Homo sapiens: one gene and its partners. The protein of the gene in region 1 interacts with the protein of each later gene in a pairwise test. Each region holds a gene or a part of one and is shown in the gene's direction. Other genes may lie near its edges.

Evidence for each region.
Region 2: the proteins of FATE1 (region 1) and BTN2A2 interact in binary tests that used the Homo sapiens proteins (3 or more experiments, as listed by UniProt).
Region 3: the proteins of FATE1 (region 1) and AGTRAP interact in binary tests that used the Homo sapiens proteins (3 or more experiments, as listed by UniProt).

The regions. Positions count from the first base shown.
Region 1 is NC_000023.11:151,721,253-151,723,734, forward strand, and holds the end of FATE1 (fetal and adult testis-expressed transcript protein), read left to right. Parts: intron 1-142; coding exon 143-249; intron 250-650; coding exon 651-729; intron 730-1,375; coding exon 1,376-1,507; 3' UTR 1,508-1,942; downstream 1,943-2,482. UniProt on the Homo sapiens protein: Involved in the regulation of endoplasmic reticulum (ER)-mitochondria coupling. Negatively regulates the ER-mitochondria distance and Ca(2+) transfer from ER to mitochondria possibly implicating it in the regulation of apoptosis.
Region 2 is NC_000006.12:26,386,108-26,389,759, forward strand, and holds part of BTN2A2 (butyrophilin subfamily 2 member A2 isoform a precursor), read left to right. Parts: intron 1-1,905; coding exon 1,906-2,187; intron 2,188-3,652. UniProt on the Homo sapiens protein: Inhibits the proliferation of CD4 and CD8 T-cells activated by anti-CD3 antibodies, T-cell metabolism and IL2 and IFNG secretion.
Region 3 is NC_000001.11:11,742,532-11,746,183, forward strand, and holds part of AGTRAP (type-1 angiotensin II receptor-associated protein), read left to right. Parts: intron 1-2,001; coding exon of another isoform or gene 2,002-2,037; intron 2,038-3,271; coding exon 3,272-3,306; intron 3,307-3,595; coding exon of another isoform or gene 3,596-3,652. UniProt on the Homo sapiens protein: Appears to be a negative regulator of type-1 angiotensin II receptor-mediated signaling by regulating receptor internalization as well as mechanism of receptor desensitization such as phosphorylation.

The DNA.
Region 1 (2,482 bases):
CGGCCTGAAGCTGCCAGCCCTTGATTCCAGAGACCAGGCACCATGTGATTCCCCATGGGGTGCACCATTGGCTCTGGGCAAACTGGAGAAGCCACTCATGTGGGGTTGGGCAGGCTACTTTACTGACCATTCCTTTCTTCAGGGGTCCCAGCTGCCAAAGCCCAGAATGCTGAGAGAATCAGGCCATGGGGATGCCCATCTCCAGGAGTACGCTGGCAATTTCCAAGGCATACGTTTCCATTATGATCGGTAAGAGCTGAGGGTCTGTGGGCCCTGGCTGCTCAGACAGGGCCCGGAGTGGGGCAGAGGGGCTGGTGAGCAGCCTGGCCAGGATGGAGTCATGAGGGCCTGGAATGCCTCCCTGTCAGAGACCATGAGTACCCTGGCTCCCTGCCCATTTGGGGCATCCCAGTGCTCTGCGGCCTAGCCGAGTTGGGCTGGACTGGGCTGGGCCAGGCTGGCTCAGGCTAGCTCAGGCTGACTCCCAGCCCTCAAGGCCCTAGGCCCTCTTTACCATGGAAGAGGACTGGAGGCTGATAGAGTCACTGTCCAAGAAGATCACGACCTTACCTGCTTGACCTCACTGCCTTCTTGTGCTCCCTGCCAGGGACCACCAGCAGCTTTGACCATCTGTCTTTTTTCTCTCCCAGCAACCCAGGGACAGATGCAGTGGCGCAGACTAGCCTGGAAGAGTTCAATGTACTGGAGATGGAAGTCATGAGAAGACAGGTGAGGAGGGACCCAATCGGTGGGTGCAAGCAGAATCACAGTGCCTTGGAATAGGCAGGGCTCGACAGCTGGGGTCCTGTAGTCCCTTACAGTCATCTTTCCCTTTAGCGCTGGAGGTGGGGCAGATTCCCTTCCTCTTCCTCCTCATCCCCATGGCTCTGACACCCCGCATAGATGTCCAGCCTCAAACTCACTGCTGTCCCTGAGATGCTGGTAGGGAATAGGGGCAGATAAAAGGTGGAGGAAGAGGGAACATACAAGGATAAGGGTTCTATGTCCAGAGAGAGAGTGATACCTAAGGGTCTGAGAGAGGGGTCGCCTTTGTTCAAACCAAACCCAGACCTTCTTAGGAGGAGATCCTTTCTTCCTTGGCTCCCCGGCGCAGCTGGAATGGGCTGGTCTCTTCCAGAGAAGGGAAGTGAACATAAGGGAGAAGGCAAAAGTGGGGCCTGCAGACGTAGCAGCCAGGTCTTTGGTCCCGCGGACCTGGCCCAGCCTCCTGCTTCTCACTAGGGGCGCTCCCCGCTCCACCGCCAAAGGGCAATCAAGCCCCTTCTTGCTCTAACTTTATGCTTTTCCCATGGCTGTGCTGTGGGCTTCTGGAGAAGAGCCTCGCTCAGCAGCCCTGCCTTTGACTCCTCTGCAGCTGTATGCAGTCAACCGGCGTCTGCGCGCCCTGGAGGAACAGGGCGCCACCTGGCGCCACAGGGAGACCCTGATCATCGCCGTGCTGGTGTCGGCCAGCATTGCCAACCTGTGGCTGTGGATGAACCAGTGATCGCCCCAGCGCGGCCTCCGTATTGGAGCCCTCCCTGCTTCCCCTTCTTTCTTTCCTCTTTCCCCAGGCCGCCACTGCCCTTGCCCCTTTCATCTCCCAGCAGCCCTCAGGAGCGTCAGGATCATTTTCAACTCTGGTTAGGCCTCCTACCTGGGGAGGCCAGGTCACTGCACTGGGAGGTCCTGGCTGCTGCGAAGCTGGAGGAGGACTGCGTGGGCTGAGATGCCACCCTTTGAAGGGTGAACAGCATGGCGGCATCTGGGCCCCACAGTAACACCTAGTGGCAACCTTGCCTTCCTGACCTCAGCGGCCCTTCTGTTCCATCCTCTGTGGGCAGGGGTGTGGCTTTGTTTTCCTCCCTCGTTTGCTTCCACCTCGTGCACAGCGCTCTGCACAGACAACACGCTCAATAAAAGTTCAGCCATAGCAGCAAAACCCTGTGGCTGAGGTTCCTGTGTCCAGCACTCACTGGGGGCAACAGTGGAGGTGGGGTGCGCTGGGAAACAACAGCTCCTCTTCACAGAGACCTTGTGGCTGGGACTGAGCCTCTGCCATTGCCCCAGGGGCCCTGGTTCCCTCCTCCCTTTCACCTCCCCCACCTCCCTGTCCCCAGCCCCAGCTTTGCAAAGTTCTTCCTGTTGGGCTCATGCAAACCAGTGCTTGTGGGGGTGTGGTTCTGGGAGCATGTCTGCGCTGTGTTGCAGGGAAGCAATCAGAGGAAATCTCCTGAAAGGGACCAGAAACCTCATTTGCGCAAGAGGAAATTGAATTCCAGAGAGAGGAAACATGTCCCTGGGTCATCCAGTGAGACAGGGCCTGGATGTGAGTTCTCTGGCGTGAGTTCTCCTGAGTCCTACGCTAGGGCTTGGCCTGCCTCCTGCAGACAGACTCACTGGAGATGAGGTCCTGCCTCAGCTCTGGAGGCTGAACGGGAGCTACACATACCCCTCACCCTACCCACCACACACTCTGGGT
Region 2 (3,652 bases), on another chromosome or scaffold:
CAGAGAGAGTGACTTTTATATAAATAGATGATTTTTATTAAAGCACAACTAAATACAGAAACAAAGTTATCTATAATTCCTGCTAACTCCACAGAGAAAGACTAAGAATTTAGCTGGGAAGAAATTGGCAAGGCTTCAGCATAGAAATGCACTTAAACTGGGATTTCTAATAGTTTGTTAAAAGTGACACTAAGTGATTACCTCAGTGTTGCAGTTAGTGTATTTTGCTTTAAAAGGTATATTTCAGGACTGAAAAAAGCCTTTAAGTTGCAGAATAATTCGTGGTGACATTTCAGTCCATCAGACCAGTGGAGGCAAGGACTAGGAAATTGGGTTCTTCCCAGGGGGCCCCAAATCATAACAGGTAGGAGACCCTATCTTTGCTACTCACAAAGGCAACCTTACATCTGATTAAAACAGAATATCGTGGATGGAGGGCTTCTTGACCCATTGTCATGACTGTGTTCACAGCAGCACTGCAATGTTGCCCAGTAATGAATGGTTGTATGTGGCAGGGACCCACTACTCTTTCTCTGTAAAACCAACCCTGTCCTGGCCTTCCCTAGTCTGAATTGGGTTGCTGTAGGACTTTTTGTTTGCTTGCTTATTGTACTCTGTTTGTTGGATTGGTTGGTGGCTGATTTTTCCCTTAAATCTATTGTGTCATGCTTACCCGTATTGAACCCATGGAATGTTTTGTAGGACTTTGTTTTCCAATTTGCTGAGGTATTTTAATTTCTTTTCTAATTCAGGATTTCTGTGTGAGCCTTCAAATGCACAACTAGCTTTTTTCTCCTGACAAAAATTAAACAGAGCAGAAAGCACTAGGCTTAAGTGATTGCTTTAATTTTCTTTCTTTAACATAATTTGTTGGGAGACTTTACAAAGGAATTATTCAGGAGAAGTTTGGATGATCACGCATGGCTGAAGGGTCTCCCAGGACCATGCTTTTGCAGCTCTCTCACTCTGGGTATTCTCTTTCATTGAAGGTTCTAGTAAAGATAGAATATATTTAGGATGAGCCTGAATTATTAGGATTTTTGGTGATGATCTCTGACATTGAGGAGGCAATATGGTTATCTTAAGGATCCCAGGGGCATCCAGATATTTCTAATACATTGATGTTCTTAAAGGACTGTAAGAAAATTCTCTATTGGATGGAACCTCTGGGAGGTAAACAACTGTGAATTAGAATAAGAATTGGCTTTGCCAGCTAGTTCTGTCTATTCTCCTAAAAACCATCACCTCCTATGGAGGTAGATAGCCATGGTGATGTGAGGCCCTGAACTAGACAGAAGTGTCAGTGACTTTGGTTCAAAAAGTTTCTTAAGATTTAGCCAAGGCTGAGCATAGTGGCCCATGCCTGTAATCCCAGCACTTTGGGAGGTCAAGACAGGTGAATTGCCTTAGCTCAGGAGTTTGAGACCAGCCTGGGCAACATGGCAAAACCCCATCTCTACAAAAAAAAAAAAAAAAGAAAGAAAGGAAAAAAAGCTTCTGCCAACCTGATAGGTTTCTGTCATTAGTGTATTATTTTAGAGCTTCAGGAAATTGAGGTCTGCAGAGAAGTCATCCCAGGAGCAGAAAGTGAAATTCTCAACCTGCCTGTTGAGAATTTGGACACACCCTCCTGGAAGTGAGAAAATTAGTCTTTGCCAGAATAAATTGCACAGCAAGCATTTATAGCAGACAGATAGATGCTTGGTGCTGTGATGGGGCCTTCAGGTGGAGCATAAAGAAAAGTGTGCAATGTGATCCTTTCTCTTTGAGATCTCACAATTTATTTTGCATATTGGTTTCCTGATGTTCTCCAAAACCAAGGGTCTTTCTAGCAACCATCCATCAAGGTGCAGTAGGGGCTAAGATACCACTGCCTTTTGGCTGAGCCCTGGTCTCCCTTTCCAGGCCTTGGGTCTAAGCCCCTCATTGAAATCAAGGCCCAAGAGGATGGGAGCATCTGGCTGGAGTGCATATCTGGAGGGTGGTACCCAGAGCCCCTCACAGTGTGGAGGGACCCCTACGGTGAGGTTGTGCCCGCCCTGAAGGAGGTTTCCATCGCTGATGCTGACGGCCTCTTCATGGTCACCACAGCTGTGATCATCAGAGACAAGTATGTGAGGAATGTGTCCTGCTCTGTCAACAACACCCTGCTCGGCCAGGAGAAGGAAACTGTCATTTTTATTCCAGGTTAGTTCTCTGCCCTCTGAGACCTATCAAGTGTATGCAGGATCCTCAGCACCCAGATGGAGCCCAGAGCGGGAATGGGGGCAGCAGTGTGGGTGGAATGGTCCTGGGCCCTGAGGAGCTGGAGGCTGCAGCTGAGTTGAGACGTCTCCCCTCCTCACAAAGGGAGATTCAAAGAGTCCCAAAACACAAGAGTAGGAGCCTCTTCTCTGAGGGTAAACCTGGTCTTTTTTTTCTTGATTAGGTCTTTATGCTGCAACAGTTGTAAAATATTAAGGACAACCATCAAACCTGGAGAGTAGTGTGGGTGGGTGACTGTCTATGCTTGGCATTCCTGTATGTTGCAGCCATCCCTTCCTGTCTATGGGACTTCCCAAAGGACAGAGCTGGGGAAATTCCCTATCAAGAGACATTCATAAATGTATTCAACAAATGTTCAACAAGCATTTCTTATGTTTAAGACTGTACAGGAAACCAAGGGTCAATAATTGAACAAAATATATCAAAATTTCTCTCCTCAAGGAGTTCATATTCTAGAGAGAGACAGCGGCCGGGCACGGTGGCTCACACCTGCAATCCCAGCACTTTGGGAGGCCAAGGTGGTTGGATCATGAGTTCGGGAGTTCAGGACCAGCCTGGCCAAGATGGTGAAACACCATCTCTACCAAAACTACAAAAATTAGCCGAGTGCGGTAGCAGGCGCCTGTAATCCCCGCTGCTTGGGAGGCTGAGGCAGGAGAATTGCTTGAACCCAGGCGGCAGAGCTTGCGTCAAGATCGTGCCACTGCACTCCAGCCTGGGCAACAGAGTGAGACTCTGTCTTAAAAAAGAAAAAGAAAAAAAGGGAGCGCGAGAGAGAGACAGCAATATATGAAATAATTGAAACAAGTGATTAAATAAATAATAATCTATATATTCTATCACATGGTGACGAGCATGTAGGAAAAATTAAGCAAAGAGAAAATAGAGAGTTCCAGGGGTGTGAGGCATCAGAATTATTAACAAGGTGGTCAGGGAAGACTTCACTGTAAAGATGGAAATTGAGCAATCAAGACAAGGAACCATCAGATGCTTAAGGACTGAGCAGCCAAGGTACAGGAAGAGCATATGCAAAAGGCCTGAGGAAGGAGCTTGTCTGGCAGTTTCCAGGACTCCCAGGAGGTGATGCTGGTGTGGCTGAAATGGAGTGAGTTCAGGAAGTAGGGGGAGATGAATTCACAGAGTGATGCAACTACGTTATATATGGCAGCACAGGCCACAAACAGGCTTTGGCTTTTAGAGTGAGTGAGTGGGAAGCATTGGAAGGTTTTGAGCAAATAATTAACATGATCTCACTTGGGCTGCTCTGCTGAGAGTAGATTACAGAATAGAGCAGAACAAGAAGGAGGGCACTCTAGTATTCCAGGCGTGAGTGATGGTGGTTTGAGGCAGGGTGATGGCTGTGCTGACTCAGCATGGCTGGTTAGTT
Region 3 (3,652 bases), on another chromosome or scaffold:
TTCCTTACTTTCTCTTTCTGGCAGGATCTTGCTCTGTCCCCCAGGCTGTAGTGCAGTGGCATGATCTTGGCTCACTGTACACTTGACCTCACTGGCTCAAGTGATTCTCCCACCTCAGCCTCCCAGGTAGCTGGGGCTATAGATGTACTCCACCATACCTGGCTAATTTTTTGATTTTTTGTAGAGATAGGATCTTACTTTGTTAGCCAGGTTGTTCTCGAACTCCTGGGCTCAAGCAGTCTTCTCCCTCCACCTCCTAAAGTGTTGGGATTACAGGCGTGAGCCACCAGACCTGGCCCACAGTTCTTTTTTGCAGGTGGTGAGGGCTCCTTCTGCCCTTCCACCCAGGCCAGAAACCCCGGCCTTCTTCGCAAACCTTGCCCATGTCTGCGCCAGGACACTGCCTCTGCCCCAGGCATGTGGCATCTCTCCCTTCCAGCCTGACCCCTCAATCCCTTGAGTAAACTTCTAGGGCCCTCATTGACCACCAGGCCCGTTGAAGCTCCCAATTTGGGGCTCCTGGCCTCCCAAAGTCTCTGTGCCACCCCACCCCGACCTCAGTTATCTCCATGCCCACCGCCACCCATGCAGGGCCTGGGGCTTGGCCCCACTTTGCCTGGCCGAGCCCCGCTCATACATTGTGCTCAGCCTGGGTCCCTTCCCTTTGGAAGCTCTTTCTGCAGCTGCCTGCCCTCCCAAGGCATCTGTCTTTTCTTTTCTTTTTTTTTTTTTGAGATGGAGTCTCACTCTGTCACCCAAGCTGGAGTGCTGTGGCCCATTTTGGGCTCACTGCAACCTCTGCCTCCCAGGTTCAAGTAATTTTCGTGCCTCAACTTCCGGAGTAGCTGGGATTACAGGTGCCCACCACCATGCCCAGCTAATTTTTGTCTTTTTAGTAGAGACAGGGTTTCGCCATGTTAGCCAGGCTGGTCTCGAACTCCTGACCTCAAGTGATCCACCTGCCTTGGCCTCCCACAGTGCTGGGATTACAGGGGTGAGCCACCGCGCCCAGCCCATCTGCCCTTTTTCTTTCTTTCCTTTTTTTTTTTTTTGAGGCGGAGGTTTGTTCTTGTTGTCCAGGCTGGAGTACAATGGCGCGATCTCGGCCCACTGCAACCTCTGCCTCCTGGGTTCAAGCGATTCTCCTGCCTCAGCCTTCTGAGTGGCTGGGATTACAGGCATGTGCCACCATGCCCGGCTAATTTTGTATTTTTAGTAGAAACGGGGTTTCTCCATGCTGGTCAGGCTGATCTCGAACTCCCGACCTCAGGTGATCTGCCCACCTCAGCCTCCCAAAGTTCTGGGATTACAGGCGTGAGCCACTGTGCCCAGCCTCCATCTGCCCTTTTTCTATGTGCTTTCCAGTCAGGGCCTTGTTGATGTCCCGGAGTAGAGACCAGTTCCAGGAGAGGAGGCTGTCATTTTAAGGACACAGAGGACATTAAAAAGGGTAAAATATTGTAGCTGGGTGCAGTGGCTCCTGCCTGTAATCCCAGCACTTTGGGAGACCAAGGTGGGTAGATTGCTTGAGCCCAGGAATTTGAGACTAGCCTGGTTAACATAGGGAGACCTTGTCTCTACAAAAAAACAAAAATTAGCTGGGCGTGGTGGTACACACCTGTAGTCCCAGCTACTGGGGAGGCTGAAGCAGGAGGATCACTTAAGCCCAGGAGTTTGAGGCTGCAGTGAGCTGTGATGGCGCCACTGAACTCCAGCCTGACCCACAGAGCAAGACCCTGTCTCCAAATTTAAAAAGAAAAAAGTAGAATATTGCAGAAATCCAGAAAAATAGCCAGGGGGATTTTGTTGTTGTTTTTCCTTACCATAAGGCATACCAAGCTATCTCCCTGTAGAAAAGTCTCAGTGGTGTCCCTCGTTGCACTTGGCATGAAGCCCACGCTCCTTCCCGAGGCCCTCAGGCCCCCCTACCTGTCCCCAGCTACCCTCCCTTTGCCCGCTCTCTCCAGCCACAACAGCTGCTTTCCCCTCTGCCCCCCACAGTGCGCCAGCTCCAGTGTCCCAAGAAATCACCCTCACGTGAGTCCCCACCGCTCCGCTTCCCATCGAGGCCTCTTCTGATTTCAGAGCAGATTCCCTGCATTCCACAAAGGAGCCTCCCACCCTTGTGTTACAGGAAAGGGGTCCCAATCCAGACCCCAAGAGAGGGTTCTTGGATCTCGCACAAGGAAGAATTCAGGGCGAGTCCATAGAGTAAAGTGAAAGCAAGTTTATTAAGAAAGTAAAGGAATAAAAGAATGGCTACTCCATAGGCAGAGCATCCCTGAGGGCTGCTGGTTGCCCTTTTTAAAAAAATTAATTAATTAATTAATTTACTTATTTTTGAGATGGAGTTTCTCTCGTCGCCCAGGCTGGAGTGCAATGGCACAATCTCGGCTCCCTGCAACCTCCACCTCCCAGGTTCAAGCAATTCTCCTGTCTCAGCCTCCTGAGTAGCTGGGATTACAGGCACACACCACCATGCCCGGCTAATTTTTGTATTTTTAGTAGAGACAGGGTTTCACCATGTTGGCCAGGCTGGTCCTGAACTCCTGACCTCAGGTGATCCACCCACCTCGGCCTCCCAAAATGCTGGGATTACAGGTGTGATCCACCGCGCCCAGGCTGGTTGCCCATTTTTATAGTTATTTCTTGATAGTATGCTAACCAAGGGGTGGATTATTCATGCCTCCCCTTTTTAGACAATATAGGGTAACTTTCTGACGTTGCCATGGCATTTGTAAACTGTCATAGTGCTGGTGGGAGTGTAGCAGTGAGGACAACCAGAGGTTACTCTCGTGGCCATCTTGATTTGGGTGGGTTTTAGCCGGCTTCTTTACTGTAACCCGTTTTGTCAGCAAGGTCTTTATGACCTGTACCTTGTGCTGACCTCCTGTCTCATCCTGTGACTTAGAATGCCTTAACCATCTGGGAATGCAGCCCACTAGGTTTCAGCCTTATTTTACCCAGCTCCTATTCAAGATGGAATTGCTCTGGTTCATACGCCTCTGACGCTTGGAAGGGGTGTGGGTGTCAGCTGCCCCATGGGAGGGGTGAAGGCATGAAGCGGCCCCTCCCTGGCCTGGCCTGCTTTCTTCCTCCTCCTTCACTCCTGGGCCACCTGCAGTTGCTGGTGTGCCTTTTCAACAGACATTACTGAGGCCCTCAGAGGTGCCAGGCGCAGGGGCGTCCTGTGTTTTCTGCACCCGACGCTTTCCTGCCCCTGTGGTGGTCATGTTCACAGACCTCTTCTCTCCCCCTTGTTGTGCCACAGGTGATTCTCCTAGGTCACTGGCTGCTGACAACCTGGTAAGTGACTCTGTGGGTATCTTGTGTGTCTCCTGCGGTCTCAGGGTCTGTGTCAGCCGGGTCAGGTCCTGGTTCTGCCGTGTTTTAACCAGGTCACTTTGGGCCAGACAGCTCTGCCTCTCCGGGTCTTGATTTCCGTCTGTACAATAGGCATAAGGATTGCACACCCTGCAGGAGCTGGGAGGGAGACGTGGAAGTGCTCATCAGAGCTCCCCAGGGCCTGCCCCACAGTGAGGCCTCAGCACTGCAGCTTGATTTTCACCTTTACCATCTCTTTTAATCTGTTGAGCTTCTGGAGACATTTCTCTGCCAAACCAAGACTGGAAACCATTGAGCTCACCTGTGC